Linked DNA regions of Homo sapiens. The protein of the gene in region 3 purifies or fractionates together with the protein of the main gene of each other region. This does not show direct contact. Each region holds a gene or a part of one and is shown on either strand. Other genes may lie near its edges. The genes, in order: ZFP1, MYCBP2 and SESN3.

What was found.
Region 1: the proteins of SESN3 (region 3) and ZFP1 purify together in Homo sapiens (affinity purification with mass spectrometry; 3 studies listed by BioGRID and IntAct, with this or other methods). This does not show direct contact.
Region 2: the proteins of SESN3 (region 3) and MYCBP2 purify together in Homo sapiens (affinity purification with mass spectrometry; 3 studies listed by BioGRID and IntAct, with this or other methods). This does not show direct contact.

Annotation. Positions count from the first base shown.
Region 1 is NC_000016.10:75,149,591-75,160,062, reverse strand, and holds part of ZFP1 (zinc finger protein 1 homolog), read right to left. Parts: intron 7,155-10,472; coding exon of another isoform or gene 7,112-7,154; coding exon 7,097-7,111; intron 2,927-7,096; exon of another isoform or gene 2,852-2,926; intron 911-2,851; exon of another isoform or gene 889-910; intron 1-888. UniProt on the Homo sapiens protein: May be involved in transcriptional regulation.
Region 2 is NC_000013.11:77,324,095-77,334,992, forward strand, and holds the start of MYCBP2 (E3 ubiquitin-protein ligase MYCBP2), read right to left. Parts: upstream 3,001-10,898; 5' UTR 2,895-3,000; coding exon of another isoform or gene 2,811-2,894; 5' UTR 2,682-2,810; coding exon 2,380-2,681; intron 1-2,379. Other genes in the region: uncharacterized LOC127898562, read right to left, coding at 2,811-2,894. UniProt on the Homo sapiens protein: Atypical E3 ubiquitin-protein ligase which specifically mediates ubiquitination of threonine and serine residues on target proteins, instead of ubiquitinating lysine residues.
Region 3 is NC_000011.10:95,226,545-95,237,568, forward strand, and holds the start of SESN3 (sestrin-3), read right to left. Parts: upstream 4,659-11,024; 5' UTR 4,317-4,658; coding exon 4,239-4,316; intron 3,952-4,238; exon of another isoform or gene 3,642-3,951; intron 1-3,641.

The DNA.
Region 1 (10,472 bases), on a different chromosome or scaffold from region 3:
GACAACTAGTGGCATCGACTGTGAGACTGAGAGCTGACTAGAGATTTCAGAGGTTGCATAGTGCTGAGGAGCTGGGACAGTCTGAATCCAGAAAGATAGAGATACTGGCAAACAGTTGAGATGCCACAAAAGCCATGCCCTAGAAGGATGGAGCACACCCTAGGAGAAAGGAGTATGACCAAACCGATACACCCACACCTGCAAATCTTAAAACATGCCCCAATGGGATCAGAATCATCTGCCAATAATTTAGCTATCTGGCAGACAAAACTTAACATTTTTTAGAAGGAGCTATGTATCATACAACATATCCAGCATACAAACAAAACTGCTAGACATGTGAAAAAGCAAAACCAGGGCCAGGTATAGTGGCTCATGACTGTAATCCCAGCACTTTGGGAGGCTGAGGCAGGTGGACAAATTGAGCCCAAGAGTTTGAGACCAGCTTGGGCAATATACCAAAACCCTGTCTAAAAAAAGTACAAAAATTAGCCGGGCATAGTGGCACATGTCTGTGGACCCAGCTTCACAAGAGGCTGGGGTGGGAGGGTTGCCTGAGCCCAGGAGGTCACAGCTACAGTGAACTGTGAGCGTTGTCACTGTACCCCAGTCTGGGGGTAACCAAGACTCTGTCAAAAAAAAAAAAAAAAAAATGAAAAGTGAGAGAGAGAGAGAAAGGAAGGAAGGGAGGGAGGGAGGGAAAGGAAAGAAGGGAGGGAGGGAGGGAGGGAGGGAGGGAAAGGAGGGAAAGGAGGGAAGGGAGGGAAGGGAGGGAAGGAAGGGAAGTGAGGGAAGGAAGGGAAAGGAAGGGAAGGGAAGGGAAGGAAGGAAGGAATGAAGGAGAAATCAAGCAAGCCAAAACAACGAGGCCAGGCATGTGGCGCATACCTGAAATCCCAGCACATTGGGCGGCTAAGGTGGGTGGATTGCTTGAGCCCAGGAGTTCGAGACCAGCCTGGACAACACAACGAAATTCCATGTCTACAAAAAATACAAAAATTAGCTGGGCATAATGACATGTGCCTGTAGTCCCAGCTATTAAGGAGGCTGAAGTGGGAGGATCACTTGAGCCTGGGAGGCAGAGGTTGCAGTGAATGGAGATCAAGCCACTGCACTCTAGTCTGGGCAAGACTCTGTCTCAAAAAAAAAAAAAAAAAGACAAGACAAAAACAATCAAGAGATAAACAACCCAAAAGGAGCAGATGTAGACAGTACCTATATATTAGTTTTAACCCATAAACACTTCAGACGAACTGTAAAGTAATATGCAAAATATTAAAGAGGTGGTCAGTTAAGATTATAAGCTGTAATCTCTACAGCAACCACTTAAAAAAAAGATAAAAGGGAAAATAGGAACACACAGGACAACTAAAAATAAATAGCAAAATGACACACTGAAATTCACCTATGCCTGTAAAAAAAAAAAAAAAATCACAAATAAAATAATAAACCAATTAAAAGACAGAAATAGGCCAGGCATGGTGGCTCACGCCTATAATCCCAGCCCTTTGGGAGGCAAGATCTCATCACGACAAAAAAAATAAAAAAAATTAAAATTAAAATTAACTGTCACAGGCCTGTAGTCCCAGCTACTCAGGAGGCTGACGTGGGAGAACTGCTTGAGGCTGCAATGAGCCAAGATCACACCACTTCACTCCAGCACTGCAGCCTGGGTGAGAAAGAGAGATCCTGTCTCAAAAAATAAAAAAAATTAAAAAAAAAAAAAAATAGACAGAAATAGGCTGGATCAAGGAACTTGAGGCTGCAGTGAGCTGTGTTCATGCCACTAAATTCCACCCTGGGCAACAGAGGAAGACCCTGTCTCAAAAAAAGAAAAAAGAAACAGGCTGGATCAAAACCACGACCAAACTACAAGCTATTTAGGGGAAATATACTATAAACATATGAACATAAATAGGTTGAAGCAAAAATAAAATATATACCATAACACTAATCATAAAAAAAAGGAGGTATGGGCCAGGCATGGTGGTTCACATTTGTAATCCCAGAACTTTGGGAGGCTGAGGTAGACAGATCTCGTAAGCCTAGGGGTTTGAGACCAGCCTGGGCAACCTGGCGAGATCCCATCTCTACCAAAAACAAAACTACAAAAATTGCCTGAGCATGGTGGTACACGCCTGTAGTTCCAAATACTGGGAGGATCACTTGAACTCAGGAGGCAAAGACTGCAGTGAGTGAAGATCAAGCCACTGCACTCCAGCCTGGGTAACAGAGCCAGATCCGGTCTCAAAACAAACCAACCAACCAACCCAGAAGAGGTAGGTATGGCTTTATTTTTATCAGAAAAGCAGTATTATCAGGGATAAAGAGGGGCATTTCAAAATGATAAAAGGATAAGTCCATCAGGAAGACAGAATCATATGTGTGCACACATCCATAACCATATATGCAATGACTAACACAGCTTCAAATTATATCAAGCCTGACAGAACTAAACTGAGGAATGGACAAATCCACATTCATACCTAGCTATCAATCAAATACCAGAACAGAATGAAGGCCAGGTGCAGTGGCTCTCACCTGTAATCCTAGCATTTTGGGAGGCTGAGGAGGGCGTATCACTTGAGGCCAGGAGTTCAAGACCAGCCTGGCCAACAGGGTGAAATCCCGTCTCTACTAAAAATACAAAAATTCACCGTGTGTAGTGGCACACACCTGTAATCACAGCTACTTAGGAGGCTGAGGCGGGAGAATTGCTTGAACCCTGTGGTAGAGATTGCAGTGAGCCAAGATCACACCACTGCACCCCAGCCTGGGAGACAGAGTGAGACTGTCTCAAAAAAAAAAAAAAAAAAAAGACATTTTCAGAAATTCAGCCTAAAAAACATACCTCTCACAAACCCTTTCTCAAGAAGCTGCTGAAGCATGTACTTCAATAAAACAACAGTAATCCAAAAAAGAGACGCTGCAAACAAAAGATCAACATGAGAGAGAGGAAGGAAATCCCTAGGAGTGGGAAGGAGACAGCGGTGGGAGATGGTGAAATAGCACTGATTCTCTACTAACACCACATTACTTGTAGTTACGGACTGGAACACAGTGATTCAAAAGCTGGCATTCTGAGGGTTGTCATCAACAAGATACCTGCGGCCACTGTACCAACTTTTTATTAACCTGAGGGCAGAATGCCTGGGTGAGCCTGGCCCAGATTCTTAACTGTACTTGGTTTGGCTTATCTTGAACATGTTCTGATGACATCTGTCTTTCCCCTCCATACCAGACTGCCTTGGATCAGATGAGAACAGTCATTTCATGTCACAGAAGTGTTCTGCTTTAATCTACTCCTGAGTGGTGGCTATTCACCAGTGAACCAAGATGCAGAAAATGCATAGCATCCCACTCCCTCTAATTATATTCGTACCAAAAATTCAATACCTAGTCTACACTCTGACCCTGTCACACGGCCCAACTATGTTGAGCCCCATGCTTCTCATGACCTTGCCAATAACCTCCCCAAACGGGACTTCTGTAAACTCTCAGGAAAGTCAAAGCCAGGCTATACCTGGAAATTCAATTCAGCTCATCTTTTCCTGGGAGGCTTTGTCCAACAGTAGCAAAATTTCTTTTCTTTTCTTTTCTTTTTCTGAGACAGAGTCTTACTCTGTTGCCCAGGCTGGAGTGCAGTAGCATGATCTCGGCTCACTGCAGCCTCCACCTCCTGGGTTCAAGCGATTCTCCTGCCTTAGCCTCCGAAGTAGCTGGGATTACAGGCGCATGCTACCACGCCCGGCTAATTTTTTTTGTATTTTTAGTAAAGACAGGGTTTCGCCATGTTGGCCAGGCTGGTCTCGATCTCCTGACCTCAAGTGATCCACCAACCTCGGCCTCCCAAAGTGCTAGGATTACCGGCGTGACCCACCACACCTGGCCCCAACAGTAGCCAAATTTCTAGACACAGCTGCTTTACACTGCTAAATTTGCTTGGTGTTGCCACATTGCTCCCAGTAAGGCTGTATCATTCTATACTATCTCCAGCAATACATGAGTGGTTTCATTTCTTCTTAGCTAACACTAGCTAGTGTAATTTAAAAAATAAATGATAACCTAAGTCTTGGCAAAGGGCCCACGGATGCATCTTTTAGATCTCACATGTCTGAAAGGAAAAAAAAACCTCCACCAATTAGACAAAAGATTATGCAAACCAAGGCAATATTAATTCCAGTTATAGTTTGTTAACTAAATTTTATATTAAGACTATAAGTGATATTAATCCCAGTTATAGTTTATCAACTGAATATTACATTAAGAATATATCTAAGTGGTAAAGTCTTTAAGGAAAGCAAGGGAACTATTAAGAAAAATGTCAAGATAGTGGCTATCTACTAGGTGGATTCAATCAGAAAATTTGTCATAAAGAACAGATAATGTTCTATTTCTTAACTTGGGTGCCTACATGGGCACCCATTTTATTATTATTCTTTAATGCATATATATTTGTTATATATGTTGTTATAACACATTTAAAGAGTGTTATGTCTTAATACACTATTCTGTACATGTGTCACACAATTAAAGATTAGGAAAAAAAAGAATGAGCAACCTCTATGCTCTGATATGGAAATACTTCAAAGATATGTTACTGAATGATTTAAAAAACACATAATTGGGCTGAGCACGGTGGCTCACACCTGTAATGCCAGCACTTTAGGAGACTGAGGTGGACATGGATTGCTTGAGCTCAGGAGTTCAAGATGAGCCTGAGCGACAGGGCAAAACTCCATCTCTACAAAAAAATACAAAAAATTAGGTAAGCATGGCGGCATGTGCCTGTAGTCCCAGCTACTTGCGGGGATTTAGGCAGGAGGACTGCTTGAGTCCAGCAAGTCGAGGCTGCAGTAAACCGTGTTCACATCACTGCACTCCCACTTAGGTGACAGAGCGAGACCCTGTCTCAAAAACAAAACAAAATCAAATCACATAATTAAGAGATTGAAACACAAACCATAACCAGGCACAGTGACTTACGCTTGTAATCAGCATTTTGGGAGGCCAAGGTGGGTGGATCACTTGAGCCCAGGAGTTCGAGACCAGCCTGACCAACATGGTGAAACCCCATCTCTACTAAAAATACAAAAATTAGCTGGGCTATGGTGGTGCGCACCTGTAATCCCAGCTACTCGGGAGGCTGAGGCAGGAGAATCACTTGAACCTGGGAAGGGGAGGTTGCACTGAGCCAAGATCACGCCACTACATTCCAGCCTGTGTGACAGAGCAAGACTCCATCTCAAAAAAAATAAAAATTAAAAACATAAATAAATAAAATGGCTAAAATCCAGAACACTGACAACACAAAATGCTGGTGAGGATGCAGGGCCGTAGAAACTCTCATTCAGGAGGTTCCCTCTCTCGGCTTTGGAGCCCCCCTCCCTCTGTCTCTGTCAGGGGAGCCTCTTCCTTCTGCCTTCTCTTTTCTTTCTTGCCTATTAAACTTTCCGCTCCTTAAAACCAAAAAAAAAAAAAAAAAAAAACTCTCATTCATTGCTGGTGAGAATGTGGGAATGTAAAATGGTACAGCCACATTGAAGGGAGTTTGGCAGTTTCTTACAAAATTAATTATATTCTTAGTGTATGATCCAGGGGCCTTGGTATTTATCCAAATGAGTTGAAAACATGCCCCCAAAAAACCTGCACACAGATGTTTATAACAGCTTTATTTATAATTGCCAAAACTTAGAAGCCACTAAGTTTATCTGTTCCTTCAATATGTGAATGGATAAATAAACCGTGGTACATCACATCATGACATATTCAGTACTAAGAAGAAATGAGTTATCAAGCCAAGAAAAGACTTGGAGGAACCTTCTCTTTTTTTTTTTTTGAGACAAAGTCTCGCTCTGTTGCCCAGGCTGGAGTTCAGTGGCGCGATCTCAGCTCACTGCAAGCTCCGCCTCCTGGCTTCACGCCATTCTCCTGCCTCAGCCTCCCGAGTAGCTGGGACTACAGGCGCCCGCCACCACGCCTGGCTAATTTTTTGTACTTTTTTTTTTACTAGAGACGGGGTTTCACCGTGTTGGCCAGCATTGTCTTGAACTTGGAGAAACCTTAAATGCATATTTCTAAGTGAAGGAAACCAATCTAAAAAGGCTACCTACTGCATGAATCCAACTATATGACATTCTAGAAAAGACACGACTAGGGAGATGAGACAGTAGAAAGATCAGTGGGTGTTAGGGACTTAGGGAGACAGAGGGAGAGGTGCATAGGCGGAGCACGGGATTTTCAGGGCAGTGAACCTATTCTGTATGATGCCATAGTGATGGATACATGTCATTATATATTGGTCAAAATACACAGAATGTACACAGAGAGTGATCCCTACTGTAAACTATGGTCTTTAAAGTATCAATATTGGCTCATCAACTGTAACAATATACATTAATGCATATATTAATAATAAAGGAAACTGGGGGTAGGGGTTGGGAATGAGGGGGTATATGGGAACACACTGCATTCCCCATTCAATTTTTCTGTAAACCCAAAACTGCTCTAAAAAAAATGAAATCTATTAAAACAGAACGCATATAAACAGAACAGTATGATTAACATGCTATCTTACGTTTGTGCTTTTATTTGTACTTGTGTAATTATGTACAAATAAGCTCTGGAAAGCTACACAAGAAAGTAATGACAGTGGTACCTGCTTGGGGTGGAGGGATTTAAATACAAACCCACATATTTACTGCATTCTCTGGCATTAGGCTAATCTGACTGGAAAAACCAAATACATACAATAATCTTCTGCACTTGCACTGAGGAATGTTATATGAAACAACCACAGATAAAGTGATAACCCTTTCAAAGTTGGTTGTTTCTGGGGGTGCTGTCCAAAACACCATCTATATGAAGGTCCATAAAATTTATTCAGACCTAATGTACAGAACCAAATAATTGGTATTCATAACCAATGCAAGACATTTAATTAACTCAATTTGCTTTTTGGCTGCTGGTATTGATTAGTTATTCTTGCTATGTTTCCTTTGTGTCTTATTCATACTTTTCTATTTCATTTTCTGGATCCTTATAAACTTCCTTAAATGCACTGAAAAGCAAAATGGGGAATAAACAAACAACTCACCTGGGATTTGTTCATTTTCTGCAGTTTTGGGCAAAGGCAGAGAACTATGAAGGCAGAACTGGAATAGAGGAAAAAGGAAGGCATTGTTATTAAAGGTCTGACCTGCCTTACAACTCCTAGAATGACTTGTTTAGAAACCCCTAGAGACCACCTGGGAAAATACCACCTCCTGGGAAAGTCCCTTTGCCTCTTCAGAAGGGGCAGAAAAGATCATACTAACAGCACCTATCTTCAATCTAACATTATCAGACACCCATAAAGGCAAGACTAAGATAATCCACTATCAAAAGAGGCAAAACAATCAACAGAACCCTCAACTGCTGAAATTATCAGACAGGGCATTTAACACAACTATGATTCATATACTAAAGGCTTTACTAGAAAAGGTGGACAACATGAATAAACAAATAGGGAATTTCAGCAGAGATGGAAACTGCAAGAAAAAATCAAATGGAAATGCTAAGAAAAGTACAGTAACAGAGTTGATCTTTCAGCAGGTTCATTAGTAGACAAAGGAGCTAAGAAAAGTTTCAGTAAACTTGAAGATAGGTCAAACTGAAACTCAAAGAGAAATGGAAGAAAAACATAAAAGGATAGAGCATCCAAGGGCTGTGAGACAATATCAAATGGTCTAATAAACATGTAACTGAAATTCCAAAAGGAGAAAAGAAGTATTTGAAGACATAATGGACAAGAATTTTCCAAAAATAATAATATGAAACCACAGGTCCAAGAAACTCAATTTATCCAAACAGGGAAAATACCAAAAACTAAACTCAAACAAAAACACACATGGACACATCGTATCCAAACAAATGAAAACCAAAGTTAAAATCTTCAAAGTAGCCAGAGGAAAAAAGACATATTATATGTAGAAAAATCAAGATAATGAATCATAGCCACCTTCTCATCAGAAACTAAGCCAGAAAACAAAGTAGTGACATCCTGAAAGTGCTTTCACAACAACAAAAAAGCAACTAAAGCAAAAAACTATTAACTCAGAATTCTATACCCAGCAAAAATATCTTTCAAAAATGATAATGAAGTAAAAAACCTTTTTCAAACAACAAAAACATAGCGAATTCATTATCAGTAGACCTGCACTAGAAGAAATGTTTAATGAAGTTATTTAAATAGAAGAAATATGATATCAGACAAAAACCTGAATCTACACAAATAAATGAAAATCTCGAGAATCGTTAAAATGAGGATCAACACAATAGATACTTTTTCTTGCTTTTAATCACTGTGAAAGATTATCTAAAGCAAAAATAGTAGCAAAGTTTTGTGGGTTTACAGCATATGTCAATATTCTGCAACATGTATGACAACAATAATGCAAAAGACGGGAGGATGAAATTGGGAGTATAATGTTCCAAGTATATTGACATAAAACAGTATGATATCTTTAAAGTTCCACTAAACTTTAGGGTAACAACCAAAAACTCTGTTAAATTTTTACAAATATACAATAAGACAACAGTGGAGATAAAATGTAATTATAAAAAAGACCCACTTAAGACAAAAGTAGACAGAAAAAAAGGTAAACAGAAACAAAGACCAAATAAGAAAAACAGAAAAAAACCAGCAAGATGGTAGACTTTAACACAACTATATCAATAATTGGCATAAACACACCAATTAAATAACAGAGGTCAAATTATATAAAAAAAGTAAGACCAAACCATGTGCTGTCTATAAGCAGTTTGTTTAAAATATAAAAACATAGCTACATTCAAAGTAAAAGGATGATCAGTTGTAGGAGTCAGGAAATTAAAAAAAAAAAAGATAAAAGAATGGAAAAAGAGGGTCAGGCACAGTAGCTCATGCCTGTAAACCCAGCACTTTGGGAGGCAAAGGTGGGTGGACTGCTTGAGCCCAGGGGTTTGAGACCAGCCTGGGCAACATGGCAAAACCTCGTCTCTACAAAAAATACAGAAAATTAGCTGAGTGTGGTGGCTCACACCTTGAGTCCTAGCTACTCCGGAGGCTGAGGCAAAAGGATTAGGGCGCACACCTGCAGTCCTAGCTACTCGGGAGGCTGAGGCAAAAGGTTTGAGGTTGCAGACAGCTGTGACTGAACCACTGCACTCCAGCTTGGGCAACAGAGACAGACCCTGTCTCAATCAATCAATCAATCAAGGAAGATTCTACGATCAACAGCACAATATTTATTCAAATACACACGAAACAGTTACCCAGAGAGATCATCATATCCTCGACCTTAAAACAAACTACAACAGGCCTGGTGCAGTGGCTCACGCCTGTAAAGCACTTTGGGAGGCCAAGGTCAGCGGATCACTTGAGACCAGGAGTCTACTAAAACAAAATGAAACAAAAATACAATACAAAAACAAACCACAACAAATTTAAAATAATTGAAATTCGTAACACAGTATTCTGACCAAATCAGAATTAAACTATAAATCAATAATATAAAAAGATCTGGGCCGGGTGCGATGGCTCACGCCTGTGATCCCAGCACTTTGCAAGGCCGAGGCAGGTGGATCACCAGGTCAGGAGATAGAGACCATCCTGGCTAACACGGTGAAACCCCGTCTCTACTAAAAATACAAAAAAAAATAAAAAAATTAGCCAGGTGTAGTGGCGGGCGCCTGTAGTCCCAGCTACTCTGGAGGCTGAGGCAGGAGAATGGTGTGAACCTGGTAGGCGGAGCTTGCAGTGAGCCGAGATCTCGCTACTGCACTCCAGACTGGGCAACAGAGCGAGACTCTGTCTCAAAAAAAAAAAAAAAAAGATCTGGAAAATCTCCAAAAACTTGGAAATTATGCAATACAATCTAAATAAATAAGGGTAAAAAATGAAGTCACAAGGGAAGTTAAAAAAATTTGAATTGAATGGTAATGAAAACACAATAAAAAGGCTGGGTGCAGTGGTTCATGCCTGTAATCCCAGCACTTTGGGAAGCCAAGGCGGGAGAATCACTTGAGGTCAAGAGTTCTAGAGCAGCCGGGCCAACATGGTGAAACCCCGTCTCTACTAAAAATACAAAAATCAGCCAGGTGTAGTGGCGGGTGCCTGTAATCCCAGCCAGGAGGACTGCTTGAACCCGGGAGGCAGAGGTTTCAGTGAGCTGAGTGCCACTGCACTCCAGCCTGGGTGACAGAGTGAGACTCAGTCTCAAAAACAACAACAACAGAAAAGAAAATACAAGATATAAAAATTTGAGTGATGTAGTTAAAGTAGTATTTAGAGGAACAGTTACATCAATAAATTGTGTCTGGCCGGACGCGGTGGCTCACGCCTGTAATCCCAGCTACTCGGGAGGCTGAGGCAGAGCACTACTTTAACCCAGGAGGCGGAGGTTGCAGTGAGCCGAGATCAAGCCACTGCACTCCAGCCTGGACGACAGAGC
Region 2 (10,898 bases), on a different chromosome or scaffold from region 3:
ACACATTCCATTCACTCCTCACCACATCCCTCTATTCTGACCACTTCCTCAAAAGTTATCAATGACCTGAAAACGGTTCTCACTTTCTTCAACATTTACCACTTCTGAGAATTTTCAATCCACTCTCCTAGAGCCACAGAGGCTACTGTTTCATGATTTTCTTCTTAATTTTGATTCCGTTTCCTTCACTGTCTCCTTTCTCTCACACCTTTAAACCTGATGCTCACTAGAGCTTCATTCTCTATTATTGCTCCATTCAGTCTCTCTAAAAGATATCATCTTCTCCTTTAACTTGTGTCCCTATACAAATAATTCTATCATTCATTCAGAGCCGAAACCCCAAGTCTACTTTCCTCAACATCTTTAATAAGAAATGTGATTTAATTCTTAATCAAATCATCAATAGAGTAGTTGCAGGCTACTTTTTGTAATAAAATAATGTGAACTTAAATAAACAATAATGTTGCGTTGAACAAGCATTAGCAGGCAATATCATAACATAATGCTGATTTCCATGAGTAGTTCTTGAAATACTTGAACTAATTCTTCATTACTTTTCATTGACGGCTTGTACAAAAATGGACCAAGGGCTAAAAAATCATTCACAAATGTTATATGATTAATCTATGTTAATTTTGTCTAAAACCGTTAATATAGTTCTAGATACACAGAAATCATATTACACTAGTAGTAGGAAGTCAAAACAGGAATATACAAGTCAAAAATTATTGCATAAGTCTGGAAACCATACACAAAATAAATTTAAATTCTTTGAGAGGAGTTTGTAAAGATGTTCCTGCGGTGCCATAATTTAGAGATTTACAGATCAAAATTATACCTAATTATCAGGGCAAACTGTCTCACGTAGTTTTGTGCTATTTTCAAAAGCATTAGCAAGAAACAGACTTGTGCCATTCTGGCCTTCAGTTCAGATAGCAAAAAATAGTTACACACGTTTACATCCATATGGTAAAACTACTGCTGTGCCCAATCCTGTAAACAATCACAGACATGAGAAAACTGGTTAACCTAGAAAAAGTGTGAACAAAGCTCCAGCTTTACAACTGTCTCCAACAGATAAGCCATGATACCTAGTGATAAGCTACAAATACCTGACTTACAGCCTCGTCCCTTTCATAATGGGAGAAAAAGACACCTAACAATTGCCTAATAAATTGCACATTCAATAAATAACAGTAAACTCTTTAACTCATTTTGACAGTTTCCTACTATGTTTTCCCCATGTACTGCAAGAAGCTGTGGGAAAAAAAAGATGAAGCCAACTCCCAATTACCACTGTCAAAGCTGGTGAAACAAGTCAGTCACCAACCTTCAGGGTATGCGGCATGTAAGGGCATGGAAAAGAAAACAATAGGAGAGCCCTCAGCAAAAAAAAGCACCCACATTTTAAGAAAAAGAAAATGAAACCAACTGAACATCTACATCAAGGAAGCTGAAGGTGTAGCCAACCCAAGTAAAAGAGACAAATCTACGCGCTATTCAGATTTTCTAGCTAGTGGCAGTTGAACGCTGTACCAGCTGTCATATTCTGAAGTTCTGCAGTTTTCCCCTTTTCCCTACAAAACCCTCTCTACTCTAAAGCCTGTAAGTAACAGAGGAAATCGAACAGAGGATGAAGAGAAATGGCCGATGGGACATCAGATCACAAGAGTAACTGCAACCTCATTTCTAGAAGACCAAAAGGCCCGGTTATCAAAGTACAGCTCTAAAAATCTCTATCAGACACCTTTCGCATCCACACAGATCTCCATCTGCGTCCCTTATTCATAAATCTTTTTAAAGCAAACCTCACGCCTATCCCTCGGGCCTGCTTATCCAAAACTCAACCAATCTATACCATGACTCCTCTTGGTGAAAGGCAGATTGAAGGGAGGTGGAAAGGGCTGGAAGGAATGTCATGGGAGAGGCGGCACGTGCAAATAACATTGCGGCAGAGACACTGAAAACGCCACTTCCCTTGCCACTGTTGCAATTCTCTTCGTGTATCATCCTCTTACCCTCTCTACCCATGCCACCTCCTACCTCAACGATACACACACGTGTCACAGCCGACCAGCACCATCGCCTTTTCCAGCATCACAGGTTCCCCTACCACCCCTCACTATCCCCCCACATAGGCAGGCAGACACACACACACACACACACACACACACACACACACACACACACGAGAAACTGCAGCCACCGCACCCTCCTATCTCGATAAGTGCTCCTGCCAACAGACATCCAGAGCGGACTGAAAGCTCAATAAATGCGCAGGTACACACACGCAAGCACACACACACGCGGGTGCACGCGCGGCATGGGGCGCAAGGAAGGGCGGCATGGGGCGCAAGGAAGGGCACCCTGGGGACGCACCTGGAGGCTGGGTGTCCAGCGCTGCCGCCCCCCTGGTCCCTGTCATTGAGCGCAGCGGTATAAATCCTCCGGTAGCGGTCGGCCAGGGCCCGGCCTGACAGCAGCAGCTGGTAGTGACCCCGGGAGTCCGCGGCGGGTAGCCCCAGCCCCAGCCCCGCAGCAGCCACGGAGCCGTCGGGAACCGGCATGAACAGCGCCCCCGGCGCCGGGGAGGAAGAGAAGGTGGCGGCTGGGTAGAATCCGTCCCCGCCGAGCCCCGAGGAGGCGGCGGCGGGGGAGGCAGTCGCTGCGCACATCATCATCCTCGCCGCCGCCGCCGCCGCCGCCGCCTCGTCCCCGCGGGCCGGGCGGGCAGACACGCGCGCGCACACACAGCCCTTTTCCAACGACGACGGCTCCGGCGGCGGCCTCTGGCTCCCGCAGCAGGGAGACTACAAAGACAGCGACCTCCTTCTCCTCCTCCTTCTTCTCCTCCTCCCCCCCGCGCCGCCCTCGCCGCTACTGGGGCCGCTCATCTAACCCCGCCACCCCGGGAATGTGAGGAGGAGGCGGTGCCGCCACTGCCGCCGCCACCACCGCTACCACCGCCACCACCGCCGGGGCTACCCGCAATGGGAAGCTGCCGGCCTCACAGAGCATGCGCCACTCCTCGCACATGCTCAGTAACTGCCGCCCCTTTTCCTCCCCACCCCCTCTCCGCCACCACTCCCTCCGCCTCGGGGCTTTGGGTTTGGGGCTGTTGGGTTGTGCGGAATCTGAAGTAGTCCACTTCTCCGGGTTTTACTGGCAGCTTGAAGAAGAGTAAGGAAAGTGCTGGGGAGGCTGTCAGCTACTGACGTTCGACTTCAGGTTCCCTCCAGGTGGAAGAACGAGGACCAGAAAGCAAGGGGGAACGTGCCCATCGCCAGAGGAGGAGTGGCACGCTCTTCTGCTACCTCTTCTCCAAGGCTCTGCTGCCAACAGGAAGATTTACTGTGAATTGTGCTGGTTAATTCAGAGTTTAAGGCAGAGAAAACCATCCCAATTAGAAGTGCCTTTAGCGATCTTATTTTATATGGTTTTTGTCATTAGGATTTACGCTTGTTTAACACAGCTTTTACTTACAAAGACAGGTAGTAATCTAGCACATTCTTTTTTGTGTGTGAAAGTATTTTGTGTGTGAAAGTATAACAGATAGGCTAGTATTCACAAGCCAGAGTCATTCCCAAATTCTTGTTCTCAACGGAGCAATAATATTTTTTAAATTACTCTTTTTTATTGACTCCTCACTCACCTAAGAGTGCACTTTTATCTCTTGGCAGTGGTCATTTAATGGTTTATTTTTTTCTGCCCAAACTTACATTTTTAAAGATAATTCTTGAATGCGATCTGAAACAATAATTGTGACGGAGACTGTATAGCGTCTGAAAATGTCAGATCCATCACATATCTTGTTGTTGTCTATAAAAAAGTAACATTTGCTCAGTCCTTTGTTCCAAGCTAACCTACGAACCCCATCTAAGTATATGCTCTAGAAATATACGTGCCAATGCACTTTGATTCCTACTACGTTTTATCCTTTGACTCTCAATTTGAAGAGTTTCCTAATTTACAGTCCTGACAAAATAATTTATAAGTTCTGTCATCCCAGTACTGTATCTTTCATCTATGTACTAGTTCTTATATCTGTGCCTCTTCTTCGGATGGCCTTCTCTTAAAAAAAAATAAAATAAATGTTAAAAAATCCTCCTTAGTGTTTGAGAAGTGCAAACAACAAGGAATAGGAAAGTAAATTAATTCTAGTTTTAGGGTGGAAGGTTGCTGAAAGCAATGCATTTTTTTCTGAAGCTTTAAATAATGGATGGATTTCATTTAGTTTTTTTAAAGATAATTAGCAGTGGGATAAACATAGGAACAAAGGACAAGACATGTGGAATCATAGTATTTTAGTACTGTAATTAGCCCTGTTAAGTTTTTGTATTTGTCTTGTTTCCTTACCTAAGTTCCTTCAGAGCTTGCTGCTTTTGTGTCTCCTTCAGCCACTTCAGGACTTTGCATGTAGTAGGTATCCAGTAAGTATTTATTAGACTAAATTTCTATCCTAATGCTTCAGCACAGTTAAAGACCTCAGTGTTGACCAGGCAGCCCCTAACCCTGGAGTGAGAACCAAGACAATGGTGTAGAGGCAGCTAAATTCTAAGAATTCTAAGGCCTGACAGGTAAGCAATGAGAGGGCCCATTACTATTGCAAGACCTAGCAGGGTAGCTAAAAGGCTCTGAAATCAGACAGCCCTGGAATTGGATCCTGACTCTGCTACTTAATACTTGTCTGGCTTTGGGCAAATTATCTCCTCTGAATAATGCTCAAAAGAATACCCACTACATGAGATTGAGGGAGGACTTAAAGGATCTAGGATGTCCAACTTGGCACATGAATTTTCACAAATGGTAGCACATACTAAACAAAACACTAGGTTTTCCGTAGGGTAGCAATGGTGTCTGTTCAACCATCACAGGCTCCTAGCACAGGGTCTAGCCCTGAACAGGAGGGAAATAGATGTTGGCTGAATGAATGAATGTTGCTTGCACAGAAAACATTTACAGCGCAGGCTCAGGTGGTGGAATGTGCAGTCACTGCCCATTTAGAGTTTCTAGTGGACATTGACCCGCGTGGCTGCCCTGGTCTCCGGGCTCTTCCCACCATTCATTAATTTCGCTTCAATCTTTACTGCTGTTCAGTCCCAGACAGGCCCCTACGGAGCCTGATGGGTACACTCAAAACCCGGAAACTGGATAACTTGCTAAGAAGCCCGATGTCATTGAGCTGCGCAACTAGGCGTGCGCAGAGTCGCACACATGCTCACTTAGGTATCCGAGAGTGGCATTTCTGTTGCGGTTGGCAGCGTTTCCTTCCACGGCAGCGGCAGCGGTCGCTCTCCTCAAAATTGATAGCCAGTGCAGCGTTTTTTCTCCTCCTCCTCCTCTTCCTGCCTCCGCACGGCGCGCTCCCCGGTCCCTGCAACTGCCACAGCTACCGCCTTGGCAGCTGGGCAACTTGGAAGGCTCCCCTGGGATGGCGGGGGAGTGGGGCGCATGCCAGAAAGAAAAAGGCATTTGGAGTCACCCTTACTTCTACTGTCAAGGGGACGTGAAGGAGAGTGTGGTCACAAGTCGCGAGGGTCGCCTGAACCGTCGCTGCAGATCGGAGACGTGGGTTTCTGGCAGTATGCAAAGCAAGCGTCCCCTCCCGCCGCTCCTGCGAGCTCTACTACCGAATGCCTTACGCAGCCCTTGTGTTTGGGGAAAGAGGGGGACCTATACAGAATGAAAAAACACAGAGGGCTTTGCTTTTCTTTCCCCACCCCACCGAGCTCGGCCCCCGTGCTTTCTGCGCTGCCATCTTAGTTCCTCCAGCGGCCGGGCTGGGCGTGTGTGCATTTGTGTGTACAGGGAGGGCTGCAGCCGGGGGGCGTGGGGGCCGCCTGGGCGGCTTGGGTGTCGGAATGGGCTAGACAGCAGTTCACCCACGACACATTCGCCCTCAAAGAATAGCATTGAACTACGGCAAATCCTGCCTGTGCCCATTTTATTACGGGCGTAGTATGTTTTATTCTTTGTGGTTGGTATGCTCATTTCGCAAAAGAGATCTCTCTGTCCTGTGCCCATGTAATAAGACTATGGCTTCATCTTTCCCCTTGTGATCACAGATTTAGTCGTTCTTTTCCACTTAACATTGCAAACCTGGACCACAGTTTTTTGAACTCTTATCACATTTACATTTTTCCTACTCTCATCTTTAACGATTTTGTTTTTAAAGGAAGCTACCCGTGCTGATGTAGTAAATAACAGGGCAGGAACCATAACGTGTATATAAGAGGACAGATTAGTGTTGTTTCATTTAAAGGGTTAATATTGTACTAAAGCTACAAGACTACAAACACAGGAAGTATGTATATTATTAGGTACATCGAGACTGCTGAAAATGCTGTGGTAAAGTCTGCGTTTGTTTCCTGGATTTGTACAACAATGTATTGGGGAATTTAAAAACAAAATTGGTAGCTGAGAACAATTTGGGAAAAAAAAAAGAAAAAGCTTAGGCTTGAAGAGTGAAGACATGCTTTACTCTTCAGTGACCTTCTCTTTTTAAGGGTAATAAGATAGTGCATTCTTGACAAATATATTGCACTTTAAAATAAAGTATATTTCATAGAATATATTTAGTACTCCAAGCTGAAGGGAAAAATTCAACATGGCTATCGAAATTATTTTAAACATAAATTACATATTGCATCCCCTGGCTATCTTAACCTCATGCTTTAAACAACTATATTTTTAGGGCCTTGGGATATTCAGTAACTTGTAAGCATGATGAGTTAATGTTTTTCTTTTTTATTCATGGTAGTTTTAAAAGATGTAAATTATATGTCCAAGTTTTCCCACATCCAAAAATTTAGGTTCCAGGGATCCTAAGTTATATATTGACATATATTGACATTTTCATCCGTGAAAAATTATCCTAAAATATATTAGTATATGTTTTTTAAGTATGTGAATTCAATACTATATATCTGAATGCAAATCACATTCTTTCAAAATCTCATTGTTGTGATGCATTTAGCCTAGAGGATGTTTTCACAACTGATGTAGAAAGTTATATAAAGTATAATTGTCCTAAAAACAGAAAGTTTAAAACTATAGCATTTCAACCTTGAAAACTTTAGTATAGTTTATAAGTTATTAGATTAATCTTTTTTAAATTTTGTTATTACTTTAAAATTTTTTTGTGGGTACATAGAAGGTGTATATATTTATAGGATGCATGAGATATTTTGATACAGGCATGCAATGTGAAATAAGCACATGATGGAGAATAAGGTATCCATCCCCTCAAGCATTTATCTTTTGAGTTACAAACAATCCAGTTACATTCTTTCAGTTATTTTAAAATACACAATTAAGTTATTATTGACTATAGTCACCCTATTATGCTATCAAATAGTAGGTCTTATTCATTCTTTCTGATTTTTTTTTTTTGTACCCATTAACCATCCCCATCTCCCCTCCCCAAACTCCTCATGACTCTTCCCAGCTTCTGGTAACCATCCTACTCTCTATGTCCATAAGTTCAATTGTTTTGATTTTTAGATCCCACAAGCGAGTGAGAACATGTGATGTTTGTCTTTCTGTGTCTGGCTTATTTCACTTAACATAATGATCTGTAGTTCAGTCCATGCTATTGTAAATGACTGGATCTCATTCTTTTTATGGTTGAATAGTACTCCATTGTGTATGTGTGTACCACGTTTTCTTTATCCCTTTATAGGGTGATGGACACTTACATCAATAAGTTTGCTTCCAAATCTTGGCCATTGTAAACAGTGCTGCAACAAACAGGAGCGCAGACATCTCTTCTATATACTGATTTTCTTTCCTTTGGGTATATACCCAGCAGTGGGATTGCTGGGTCATATGGTAGCTCAATTTTAAGTTTTTTGAGGAACCTCCAAACTGTTCTTAATAGTGGTTGTACTTATTTACATTCCCACCAACAGTGTTCAAGTGTTCCCTTTTCTCCACATCCTCGCCAACATTTGTTATTGCCTGTCTTTTGGATAGAAACCATTTTCTTTGTTGTTGTTTGTTTGTTTTTTGAGACAGTCTCACTCTGTCACCCAGGCTGGACTGCAGTGGCATGATCTCAGCTCACTGCAACCTCCGCCTCCCGGGTTCAAGCGATTCTTGTGCCTCAGCCTGCCAAGTAGCTGGGATTACAGGCACGCACTGCCGCACCTGGCTAATTTTTGTATTTTTAGTAGAGACGGGGTTTCACCATGTTGGCCAGGCTGGTCTCAAACTTCTGACCTCAGGTGATCCGCCCCCTCTTGGCCTCCCAAAGTGCTAGGATTAGAGGCGTGAGCCACCGCGCCTGGCCATAAGCCATTTTTAACTGGCGTGATATTAGATTGATCTTTATTACTAAAATTAAATAGTAAGAGGATAATTGAAATTCTCATGTAGAATAGCAACTATGTCATATTAATGTTTCTTTTAAATATATTTAATAGGGTTATTGCCAAATCCAGATAACCTGATATAACTAAATGGCTCTAAAATGACTATATTAGTCATGGTCTTTTTTTTCAAAGACTTTTACCTCTTTCATGCTACATCTTCTCATCAGTAAAGTGAATAATAATAGCACCTACTTCATTAGATTATTTGAGGGTTAAATTAAATAATCTGTATGACTTACTTGCTTAACATACTACATAGCAGGCCATAGCTATTATTGTCAATATTATGTTAATATATTAATGATCCCTTATTTGAGGGATGTCCTAATCTTGTGCTAGAAGTAACAAAACAGTTATACAATTTGAGTTATATAGATTAGGATTTGAAAGTTGGTTTTCTTGTTGTTTTCTTAACAAAGAGTCCTGTCCACAAATAAAGATTTACTGTGTCTTGACATGACAGGAAGAATAGAATCCAAAGACAATAGTTGTTTCCCTAAAATACCCATTCTTGTATAATTTGTTAACTCACAAAACACATTGCCTACCTTCATAAATTCAATAAGTGTTTTGAATTTTTACTGATGGATACATTTCGACATGTAACAGCCAAAACAGACTATAGTTTCTTCTCAAAAGGCTAGTAGCTATGGTATCTCTCCAGATTCAAAAACTATAAATCATCTATAATTTACATTTTCTGTAGGTTAATCTGAATTTAACATCAAAATCTTGACCTTGCCTAGTTTGGCTTCCTATTTTGATGAATATTTCTACATTTATATTTAGAAAGTAAAAAGGAGCCAATTTACCAGTTCTTCATAAAAAATTTTTCTTAAGAATATTTTGCCTCTTTTTTGATATCATATCAGGTTTGCCTTCAAACTAGACCGGAAGCTATTTTAAAAGTTTTTAGAACATAAAAGTCATAAAAAATATTTCACAGTCTTCCTAAATTAACTTGTGGTGACAGAATTTTCTTGGATAGACAAAATAATCTTACCTATTTGATGCCAAATTGTTGTGAACTGAATTAATTACTAATTTTTGTGGTGCAGCAAAGACAACACTGCTTGCAGAGAAAAACTGTGGCATCCCTGCAGGTACTTCTAAAGTCTACCTCAGTGTTGGTGGGGTGGTGTGCCAGGAATCTGCTTATTTGCTCTTGAGTCCATTCCTGTCCATTCTCCTGCTCTGCTCTGTACAGCAGGGGAAGGATCCCTGCAAATTCCATTTGTCAGGCTTCCCTTGCCAGCTAGTTTCAAATTAGCTTCAGCCTGGGGGCAAAATGGGTGACTGGCAAGTAGGCAGCAGGAGAATCAATTTCTCTCTCTCTCTCTCCCGGCACCCCACCCCCGCCAACTTTAGGCAACATCTCCTCTGTGGTTCCAGCTCCTGCTGAACAGCTTCTCCTTCCATGGTCCAGCTGCAATTAGGTAACCTCTCGTAAAGCCAGTTCTCACTGAGCAGCCCCAGCTTGTGGACCCTGGTAGCAGCGTTTTCTCCTTGGTGTCTCCAGCCCTAGGGATTGTAGATATCTCTGTCCCTTGTTTGGCTTTTCTATTCCTAGAGTAGCATTGCAATTAGTTCCCCATATTCAATTCTCTCTCTTAATGACCTGGCATGCATTTATCTGTTTTCCTGATTGGACCCTGAATGGTACAGATGGTCTTCCATCCAAATAATAAACCTGATTTGGTTTCTCAGCCAAAGGATGGCATTTTATCATCTTTCATCTGGTCTTGAAAGCTTGCGGATCTGACATCAAGCAGCAAAACAGAAATCTGCTTTGAAAATATTAGTTGGCTCACTCACACCCATTCTAAATCCCCTTCTTCCTTGCCTGCCTCCATTCTGGATGCCGGAAAAAGTGAAATATTTTCTCTGTGAGTCTGTCCTGCACCTAGAGTTGGCATCGTGACACAATTCAGGACAGCACAGTGAGGGAAAATCTGCTAGTACTACTTCTCTCTCTCTCCCTTTCTTTCTACCTAAAAGATGGACAGAATGGCTGATGTTCATAGCCATGAGACAAGAGGCATGAGATAAGGCCAAGAGCATCATAAATATTGACCCTGACATCATAGAACCATTGAACAAAGTTTCAAACTTATTTTTATACAAGGTAAAAATCAAATTCCTAATTGTCTCAGCTACTGTTGATGAAGTATTCTGTTGCTTGCAGCCAAAGCATTCTACCTGATATACCAACTCTAGCATCTTCTCAGGACACATTCCCTATCTAGAATCTATCAGTAATCTGTCCGAATGAAATATGTATTTATGGAAAATACTTAAAAGCATAAAAACCCATTCATTCCCCTGGGTCCTAAATTTTCTTCCTTTAATCAAGTCAAAACATCAGAAAGTTCACTGAACTGTATTTTATATGATGCCTTTGGATTTTATTAAAGATTACTATAGTGTGCCTCCCAGATACCCCTTCAGGTATGAGGCTCTTATTCCCCAGCTGTTGAGAGTGTTGACTGCTGGCTGCTCAAAGCTAAACCCCTGCCCATAAGTTGC
Region 3 (11,024 bases):
CAACTACTGATAACAATAAATTTGTGTTCTCACAAGTAAACATTTAACTTAAGTAAATATGGAAGGAATTCTTTTTAAAAAGCCAGTTCCTTCACAATCAATGACAATCTTTCTCATACATGACACAGTAACAAAAAAAAATTCAAATATCTGTACAAAGATAGCAGAACAAATTGTAATTCAAGACCTGCACAAGAATAATTTTGTAATGAAAGATAATGGTGTTAGACTCCAGTTATTAAAATTATGTGTACATATTTGGGGGTACCCATATTTTTAAATTACAGTTTTAAAATAAGTTAAAACATACTTAAAAATTTAATGCAACTCAAGCATTTTAAAACCCCAAAGAATCTTAAGGGTCCATACGAAGCAGTTTGAAAACCATTGCATAAAGGTTTGCCATCACTAATTAACTACTTGATCTCTGCTTAGGATATTTAAGATAATCAAGTTAAAAACTGCCTTTGACAATCAAAAATATGTAACACAAGAAAACTGATTAACCAAGGCATAATGTAACTAGTGGTCCACAGATAGAGCAAATACATTTTATTGGCTAAACCATATAAAGTTGCTATTACTTAACAATTTTGACTATAAAAATGAGGCTCATATAGTTCAATCTAGTATTTTTCTTTTTTTTTTTTGTCTTTTTTTTTGAGACAGAGTTTTGCTCTTGTTGCTCAGGCTGCAGTGCAGTGGCGTGACCTTGGCTCACCACAACCTTGGCTCACCACAACCTCCGCCTCCCAGGTTCAAGTGATTCTCCTGCCTCAGCCTCCTGAGTAACTGGGACTACAGGCACACGATTCCACGCCCAGCTAATTTTTGTATTTTTAGTAGATATGGGGTTTCACCATGTTGGCCAGGATGGTCTCGATCTTTTGACCTCGTGATCTGCCCACCTTGGCCTCCCAAAGTGCTGGGATTACAGGCGTAAGCCACCATGCCCGGTCCTCAATCTAGTATTTTTCATTTTGACAGTATCTTTGTTTATAAAACCATCAAAAAGATGTCAAAATATATGATCATATAACAAAGTGAAAAGTGCAATAACAATACAAAGATATATCACTATAACTATCTTAACATTAAAAAAGTTTAAATGTTAGATCCTCTAAAGAGCACAAAACTATTCATTTAAGTAGCACTAACTGCTCAATACCCAAAGTACATTGGAATATGCCACTTTTTTATTTACTGGAAGATGAGTGGACTGATAATTACCTACCTTCCTCAATGCAGTTTGACACATGACTTTTCAAATTAAAGGATTATGTTCTTCTAGTTATCACTAGAATTTCTTCAAGTAAAAGATTAAACTTAAAAACTCGTTAACTTTACAAAATAAATAGAAGCATTTCCTCTTTTATTAAAAACTTTACTGAACTACCTCATTGACAATAGAGCAAGTTAGACTTAAGAGTTAGGGATTTCAGGATAGTTTTGATGGTTAATTTATTTATGGATATGGTTTACCTCTCCATTCTTTTTACTGTCCTAAGGTTACCAAATTAGGTACATTCAATATTTTAATAAGTCTCTTTATTTTGGAGGATACTAAATCAAAACCGTAAACGGACTTCTAAGAATAAATGTAATTCTCATACAATATATAATTCAATATTCAGGCATTGGGTTAAACCATATTATTTCATTTGAAGGTGAATTCCATTCCTTGTGAAGTTCCCCTAAAATTCAACACACTGCAACAAATTAAGCCACCTACTGAGAGAATAACACTTTCTGTCCCATATAAAGGTGACCCTTCTTCCATCATTATATAGAAATATAAAAGCAAAAGTAATTCACACTGGATGAGCATGAGTTTCATTCTTCCATTATGAATTAGACTGAACAAACATTCAAAATACTATGACTCACTTGGCTACATTACTGAACACTTTATTAAATGGAAAACAAGATAAACTCTAAGAATCACATTTTGAGAGTTATAGATGACTTTTAACTTAGAGTTATATCAACAAGAAAAACATGTCTTTATTAGAAATAAACTTTTCATTGTTATTTTAAGAATGATGAAACATTTAAAATGCTACATACTGATTCTCTTAAGAGCACTTCAAAGTGGCACTCTTTAAAAAGCTGCAAATGTTGCCAAGTCATGTTATAACTGGCTCAAAGAATCCTATTTCCATTAAGTTATTTCATGCCACTGCATGAATCAATATTAAATACCTTGGAGTTACTAAAAACTGGAATACTGGCAGAGATGTGCTCAGCAATTATAAAATACGAAAATGTGAATACTCTTTTTCCACGTTTCTTTTAATAATGGCTAGAAATGAGGATGTTCTTTCTAGGTAAACAGAAATAGTTTCCTAAAAGCTAAAGGAAAGATGTAATATCTTAAATGCTAGCAAAGTGTCATGGATCCATAGCCATAGCTCTCTCAAAAGAAAAATGAAATACATTTTGAAGCCTAATATTACCTCCAAACATTTTATTAGCCTAACAAATTGCCAGAGCCATTAAAAAATTTTTTTATCAAAGTCAATACAGTGCTCTTTTTCCTTATTCAATTAAAAAGCATAACTTGCTGTCATTTTAACCAGGCTGCACTTTAATCAAACATGTCTTAAATGACACATTTTTTCATGTCAAAGACATAACATAAATTTAAAAATTAAGAAATAAATTTTTTTGAAAGCTAAGTTCAGATGACATCTGGCCCTGCAGTGAAAGAGTTAACATCCAACTAAGCTGATCTGCACTTCTGATCCATTACATTTCTCACAAGCTACCCTACAATGAGCTGAGCAAGTATCAACTGTAATTTGATCCTAGAGTTTATGGAAAAAAATAACTGCACATACTCAACATGCACATTTAATAAAAATCTGTTTCAAGAGAAACATATCCAATAAACACAATTTAAGGCATATTTAACTGTTCAATTAACCTCAAATCTGCAATCCCTTTGCTCTCACGCTCTCAAATAAAATAGGAAGAAAAAAAAAAGCAGCAGCCCTACTGCAGGGAAAAGAGGCTTGAAAAACAACTTTGATTGGCACTTGGCCTGACCCACAGAGGAAGAAAAACAGTTTTTGGACAAAGAGCGCAAATATTTGAGCTTGCTTACTTATGTGCTTTTTTCTTTCTTCCTTTTTTAAAAAAAAATGTAGAAAGAACAATCCCAAAGTGAACCGTATTTAGAGATGTTGACTAAAAACGGTACCATATTCATCTCCGCTTTCAGTCCCGATGCATTTGCACAGCTCAGCAATTTTAATTCATTTGTAGTGAACAAACAGAAGCATCTCACCTAACGTTTCCACTTAATAAAATGTAAAAATAGAGTTTGAATACGAATAAACTGATTATAATATTACTTTGGGGCAGCTGTTAAAATCTGATCAAAAAGTCTAGAGACCTTTTTTTCATTCCCTTCCCCATCCCTCTCGCCCTTCCCCGCGGGGCGATTAAGCCAAGTAAGCTAAACAATACTGGAGTAAACTTTCTATCAGTCACTCTAGGAAGCAGCAATAAACTGATGGTGCGCCTCATTTTTCTGGATCAACACGGGGGCAGGGGGGTGCTAAGGAGGAATAACCCACATCCACCTCAGTCTTCTCCTCCCCCAACCCCAGCCTCAGGAACTGGCCAGGTCGAATTGCATTTCCCATGGGCATAAAGTTCAAGATGCTTTACTGGTTCCTTTCGAGACTGAACTACAGACACAGGACTACCATCCAAACAATTTGAAAACGGGGGTTGTTGAGCAAGGCGCGCAAGGCAGAAGCAACCGAATAAACAAAAACAACACTCGCAAGAGTTAGCCACAGCAAAGAGGGGCCAGGTTCCTCGGGATCCGACCCAGCTGCTCTGATTTCACACCGACCTCCATCAACAGCTAAACTGCACAGGGAGGAGGATCGAACGGATCCCTCCCGCCCTCCGCCCAAGGAGCCGACCCGGGGTAGCAAGGTAGGGAAATGAGCCGTAAAGGAGAGCAAAGGCACCAAATAAAAGGAACAAGGGAAGAAAAAATATCCCAACCCCTCCAGACTTGGGTCTGTCCCGGCGGAAATAAAAAGCCGCAGTAGTCCAAACCCTCCTGCCCTCAACCCACGCCCCCTTTCTCAGTCCCTGCGGAGGGACGGTGCCCGGGGATCCCTCTCAGCCTCCCCCAGTGCGCGCCCGGGGACGAGCCGCCCGAGCCCCGGCCGGCAGGAAGCGACCCTCGCCGGCAGGACCCCGGGCCGAACCCGTACCTTCCGCAGCACTTTCCGGCAGTTGGTACAGAGCAGGTAGTTGGCGGCGGCCGACGGGCTGCCGCCGCCCCGGTTCATCGTGGCTGCGGGCGCCGAGGCGAGAGCGGGCGGAGGGCCGGGTCCGGGCTGTCACTGCGGCCACTGCAGGGCCGGTCCGTCCCCCCGCCGCCAGCCGCGATTCCGCCTCAGCCTCCTCAAGGCGGGATGTCGGGAGGAGAGGCGACTGCCTGAAAGCTAGCGGCACTGCCAGAGGCGACCACCGCGGCAGCTGCCCCAGCGACGGCGGAGACGGCGGCGGCTGCTCCTCACCGGCCCGTTGTTCCACCCGCCCCCATCTTCCAGACCCCCGCCCCCGCCAGGCTAGGACGAGCAGCCGCCACCGCTGCCACCGCCACCACCGCCGCCGCAGCGCCTCAGTGCGGCCCCGCCTCCGCCGCCCCACCACCTTCACCACCTCCACGCTCCGGTACCGCCCCTCCCGCCAATCGGACAGCTCCGGCTACGCCCCCAGGGCGCTAGCCCGCAGCCAATGAGCAACGAGAGCCCGACTGGGAGTCGCGCCGGCCAATCGCAGGGGCCGAGGAAGCCTTGAATCTCCGGGCAAGTTAAGTTTATCTCCGAGGCTCGGAACTGAAGGGAGGTGGCGGTTAGCTAAGTAGTAGGGTAGCAGGGAACAGTTTGCTCTCCTCTGCCAATAAGAGGACGAGGGTGTGTCATATGCAAATATACTGCCCTCCAAGCCCCACCCCCAAGATAAGCTACGCCCCCTTCTCTAGGTCCCTGCAGAAGTGGTGAGGAGAATGAGATAAATAGTTGGGAGCTAGAGCTCGCTAGAGAGTCTAAGATTGAGCTAAATATTTCCTGATCTCTCGAGAAAGGGGGAGGGGAGTGGGAGGATTAAATGTTCCTTCCTTCAGGGCAGTGGTTAGGCTTTCTCTCCACCAAAATCTAACTTTAGCTGTAAAGAAGACTGCAGTTATGTAGTACTTTGTATCCAGGGATCTCAAAGAACTTTACGCATCATTTATTGTGAACCTTGTTTTGCAAAGATTTCAGTTACTTGAGGCTTGGGAGGCGGATAGGGGATAAATGTCTGAGTTATATATATATTTACGCAAGTAATCGAGTTTGAGGGGAGAGACACAAAACCTCTGGTTTAGCGGTTTCCTCTTGTTTGTGAAGCACCTTCTAGCAGTTATCTTAGAGATGTAAGTTCATTTACTTGTCCAGCACTAAAAGGCCAAAGGGGCTTGTTTTCTCACCCAAAAGACCTTCCTGAGGCAGCTGTTCGGATACATGCAGAGCACAGCGCCCTGCTCAGAAAGGAAGGTTCAGAGAACAAATTGTCGTTTAAAACTATTGGGACAAACCTACCTCTTCTAAAGCTTAAAATGGTAAGTCAGGGTTTTAGCGTCCACGTTCTGCGGAGAGAAGGCAGACTTGACTGGGGAAAGCGCAGGCTGACCGAGTGTGGCGGGACAGACGGGTAGGGGAGCCAGGTCTCCCGAAGGGGCTAGCAATGCGCGTCCGAGTCGAATGCGGGTTCCCGATGCTAGACGCCCGCAACCTGCTCCCGAGTGAGAACAAAGGCCGGCGCAGAGCGAGAACCTGATTGGTGCCCGGTCCTCACTCGTGTCCTCCGGGCCCCAGAGATAACTTGCATCGCCTACTGGCAAGGAGCTCTGTGCTCACTGGAGCCCAGCTCCCCACCCGGCCATGGCCGTGGCCACAGGACTGTGCATTATGACATCACCTGTTTTCGATTTTTAGAACCTAATCAGTATTCTCGGCTTCTCCCTTTTTAAAGGTCTCCAGCGTACCAGGATTTGTGAAGGCCTGAAGTTCGTAGAATGAAATCTATGTGGAGATGATTTAAAAGAACGGTTTCACTGGTTTGCATTTCTTTCTTTTCTTTTTAATTAAAAAAAAACAACAACCCTGGTTTCCTTAGGGATTCAGGGTGGTGTTATGCAAAATCGGAAAGGTACACTTGGAGGAGCTAGCAAGTTTAGCATATCAAAGCTATTAGACCAATTTGTGCGGTTAAAACTGCCATTCTCATTTCTCAACAGCTGTCTCCTCTCTGTCCCTTTTTAGAGACCAACACATATAAACCAAGTCTACACAAGAAACAAAGGTAATGGAAATCTGCTAGTATCAGGTTTAAATAGATCAAAATAGAGTAGAAAACCCCAAAAGGGTCTAAGTTATGTAGTTGGGTAAAGGTGTTGATCTATTTAGCCAGTGTTAGCTAAAGGTCGCTTGATGCTGTGTAGACATACATAACTAAAGAGCAATGAATGGTGTGGGGAAGGTGCTTAAGATTCAGTTAGAAGAAACTGTAAAAGCAAGTAAATTCAGAAAAGGAGGGAATTACCACATGCCCTTCGATGCAGAGAACCAAGAAATGCAGGGAGAAAGTCAGCAAGGCACAGTTTTTCTAAGAAACACATATGTGTCCCCATTTAGTGGTAAATTTCTTGGGCTATATTCCTGGCTGGTTCTGGCTTTTAAAGCAGATTTTATGTGAGTACATTTTAAAGGAAAGGAGAAATTGAAGGATGAAGTGAATTTTTGTGCAGATTGAATTTTCTCAAATAGAATTTTAAATTCATATTGTTTTCTAGCACATTCTTCTTATAACCTTTTCTTTTCTTTTTTCACTTGACAGCTAAAATCCTTTCGAAATGAGTTCCTTTAAGTTCTTCAGTAACTAAATCCTCCAGAAAGGAAAGCCGAGAGAATCTAGTCCTATACAATAACACCCTCTAACAAAGATCGCTAAAGGAAGATTTTAGTAGATGAATATCTTCAATAATACATGGTCACATACATGTATCTGACCATATGATGGCTCTCTGCACCAAATTCCTCCAAACTATTATAATATGTATTGTCTGTAGTGCTATTTATTTGGCAGTTAATCATGTATTACATTGTGACATTTCTTACAGTGAACCATTATGTATGTGTTTATGTTCTGCCCTCAACTACTCAATGCCAGTACCTTATTCTTAACACAGCAACCACCCTTTCTGGTCTGTCCTCACACCCTCATTCCCATCATAGTTATTCTCCTCTCTCATGGAAATGTTCAGTTTCTGGACATCTCCTTTCTCTTCCATTCTTCACCTGACCTTCCTTCCTTTCTTGGCCAGCCTGAATATTATAAAGGGAATTTTATTTCAAACCCAGGATCGCACTTAAGAGGAAAAGAAACAAAAGCCAGTTCTTTTTATTGCACATAGAACAAGGAGAAACTCCACCCCTTTTGTTGTCTGGTATGTTTAAAACAAGAAAGAACTTTAGAAAAGTAGGATATGAGTGAAAATTACAACCAATGTTGAGAACTACTTTTTAATTTTTTATTACAAAATTAGGATGATACTTCATTAAACATTGTACATCATTTCAAAACTGTTATCTCATAATCATGTTGCTTGTTTTGAATTATTCTTTTAAAGTGTAATTTTTTTAAGCAAAGAATCCATAAAATTACATGGCTTGGATGTACCATAACTTACTTAATCCTTATGCTATTGTTTAATATGTGGGTTGTTTCAGATTTTTCATGATTGTAAATAACAAAATAAACTTCCTTATACTTAAGTTTCTGGCAGAATCTCTGATTCCTAGGCCTGGAATTTCTGAGTAAAAGGGTATACATATGTCTTAAGGCTCATGGTGCAACTTGCTATAATATTTTGTGGAAAGATTTGAATAAGAACACAGGTGAGAGCAATCATTTGAAAGCTATCATTCTGCATAAGGCCCATCAGTATTCCACCTACCTCTACCTTAATCCCTTTCCCTTCTTCCTTCTGCCTGGTGAATATCTTCTGTTGAAACACTTCCTGAATCAAGCACTTGTCCAAGCATCCATAGTGCCCCTCTATACCTCTTCTTTACCAAAAAGCTCACTAGGGAAATGGTAGGTTTAACTCCTGTTTTCTCATTAGACTTCAAACCCCTTGAAGGCAGGGATAGAGTAACATTTACTTTGTATCCTTGGCTCCTAGCTCAACTGATAGGGAAGTGCTCAAAAAAATTTTGGAGAAAGTAATGAGTTTCACTCTTTATAAAAGCACCCCAATAAATGTGAATTGAATTGTTCAGAAAAATCCACTGCTTTGAAGCAGAGAGATTAGGCTCATGTTCTTACCTGTCACCAATCCTTCTCTGACATTGAATGTATTAACTATTATGGGTTGGGCATCATTCTCTCTTTTATCAAATGAAAGTTGTTACCACAAACCAGAGGTGTAGGAAGGGTTGAAGGAAAATTTTTGTGTTTAGCATGTTTGATTGAAGTTACCCTGTTAATAATATGCTGTGACTTTGGACTTGAAATTGTTTACTTCTTTAAATATTCTCATTCTATTGACCAAAGAACTGAGTTCCTCTATAGTTTCAAAATAAGGAGTTAATTGAGAAAAATCAGTTACTAAAGATATTTTTAAAACTCCATTTCTTGAGACAATAGGTCACTTTCTAACATTTTGCCTCTTCAGGCCTCTTTTTCTTTCTCAAGGGGACACCCAAAGCATTTGGATTGCTGGGAAAGTGCTGCATTATTTACACATTTGCAAATACTGTAATTTGTTTCTTGCACAAAGGAATTTACACTTCACACAATTGTAAATTGATTGCTCCCTCAGAGCTGTTAATTAGATTCCTGCTATTTTTTTCTAAGGCCCAAGACCAATACTACTCCAAAGGAGAAATAAGAGGATCTGTTCTCAAAAGGCCACTACTTTAGTTCCCACCCCATTCCACCTCTTCAATCACCCACCTCCACTAAGATTATTCTTATCGAAGCTCATTTTTCAAAAAACAAATATTCCACCAGGACCCAAATTCCTGTCAGCTTGCTCTTCTAACATTTCAGATCAGAGTTTTCTGTATTTAACCCCACTATAAAGCAGACTACAAAAGGCCTACAGATGTGAAGGGTGTGGTTTATTTGTTTGGCTTGCACAAAGTCAGCCAGCATGATGCTTTTTAAAAAATTTTTGAATTGCTTTCAAATATTCCCAATTCAGGATTTTTTTTTTAAACCAAAAATCTAGATTTCCATTTTCTTTAGAAAAATTGTCAGATCTGGTTACACTGGGCTTATATTCCCACAGGGCAACCATCTGTCAAGCTCACTACTGGCTATTTGGTTTGGACATGCACTCTTCTGTTTACTAAGGTCCCTGCCACTCCCTAGGGGTTATAATTTTGCCATTTTATTTACATTATCTTCTTGCCCTTTGTAGGGATTTGAATTTGCAACCTCCATAAACCTTCTCCAGCATCTAAATTATTGATCTGTTAGTTATCACTGTTAACTTTATCAGAGAACACTAATTAAAAATAAATTTGTCACCTCTTTACTATAACAAAAGGAAAGGGGTCACATGCAAGCAATATTGTGATGTATGATGTATGATGATGTCAGGTACCCTGAAAAAAAAATATATGTATATTGATATGGTTTGGCTGTGTCCCCACCCAAATCTCAACTTGAATTTTATCTCCCAGAATTCCCACGTGTTGTGGTAGGGACCCAGGGGGAGGTAATTGAATCATGGGGGCTGGTTTTCCCCATGCTATTCTCGTGATAGTGAGTAAGTCTCATGAGATCTGATGGGTTTATCAGGGGTTTCCACTTTTGCTTTTTCCCCATCTTTCTCTTGCCATCACCATGTAAGAAGTGCCTTTTGCCTCCCACCATGATTCTGAGGCCTCCCCAGCCATGTGGAACTGTAAGTCTAATTAAACCTTTTTATTCCCAGTTTCGGGAATGTCTTTATCAGCAGTGTGAAAATGACCTAATATATATATTATATATATATACATATATACACTGTATATAGTATGTATATATATCTCACAATGGGCTGAACAATTATCTAACTAAGAAGAGACTACTATGTCCTTTATGCTGCTAACTCCGCTTCTTATCCTCATTCTGCTCAAATCCCTATTCTAATTGTTGCTTTAGGATAAAGGAGCCACAGGTAATGTGGCAATATTGGAAGAGCAAGGAAGCCAGGCCTGATGCATTGAAAGTGTTTTATTTGATAGGCATTATCACATAGAGGCTAGAAGCCCTGGTTCTGGAGTTAGACATAAATTTGAGTATTGACTTTGCCTCTTACTAAATGTATGACCTTGGGCAAATTACTAAATTTCTCTATGCTTTCAATCTCCTCATCTGTAAGATGGAGTAATAATGCTACCTAACTCGAACGGCAATTGTAAAGATGGACTGAAATAATGCATTATAGTGCTCAGCAAAGTGACTGATACATTGTAAGCCCTAAATAAATGCTTACTGTGAACTGACACAATATAAAGGATGTTATACTCTCTACATACTGTGTGACCTGGGTCTAGTGACTTAACTTTCCTGTATCTCAATGTTCGTCATCTGCAGAAATGAAGATATTAAGATTAGTTTTGTCATAGAGTTTTTTTAAAGATTAAATGAATTCTACATAAAACACTTTAAAACAATGCCTAGCTTATAAGAAATGCTATGTAAGTTCTATTATTATATACTGTTGTTAGGAGATTTTTTTTTATTTGTCTTTTTTTTTCCAGTGAAGATCTTTGATTTTGAGATACTTGTCTCAGAAGTAAGTTAATATAGGGTAATAAAAATAGCACTGGACAGAAAGTCAAGAGACCTAGGGTTTAGTTCAGTGAACTATATATGAACTATATGATATATGCAAGCTTGGAATCACAGCTTATCTATCACTTGGAATCACTTCCTTTTCTATTAAATGTGGCAGG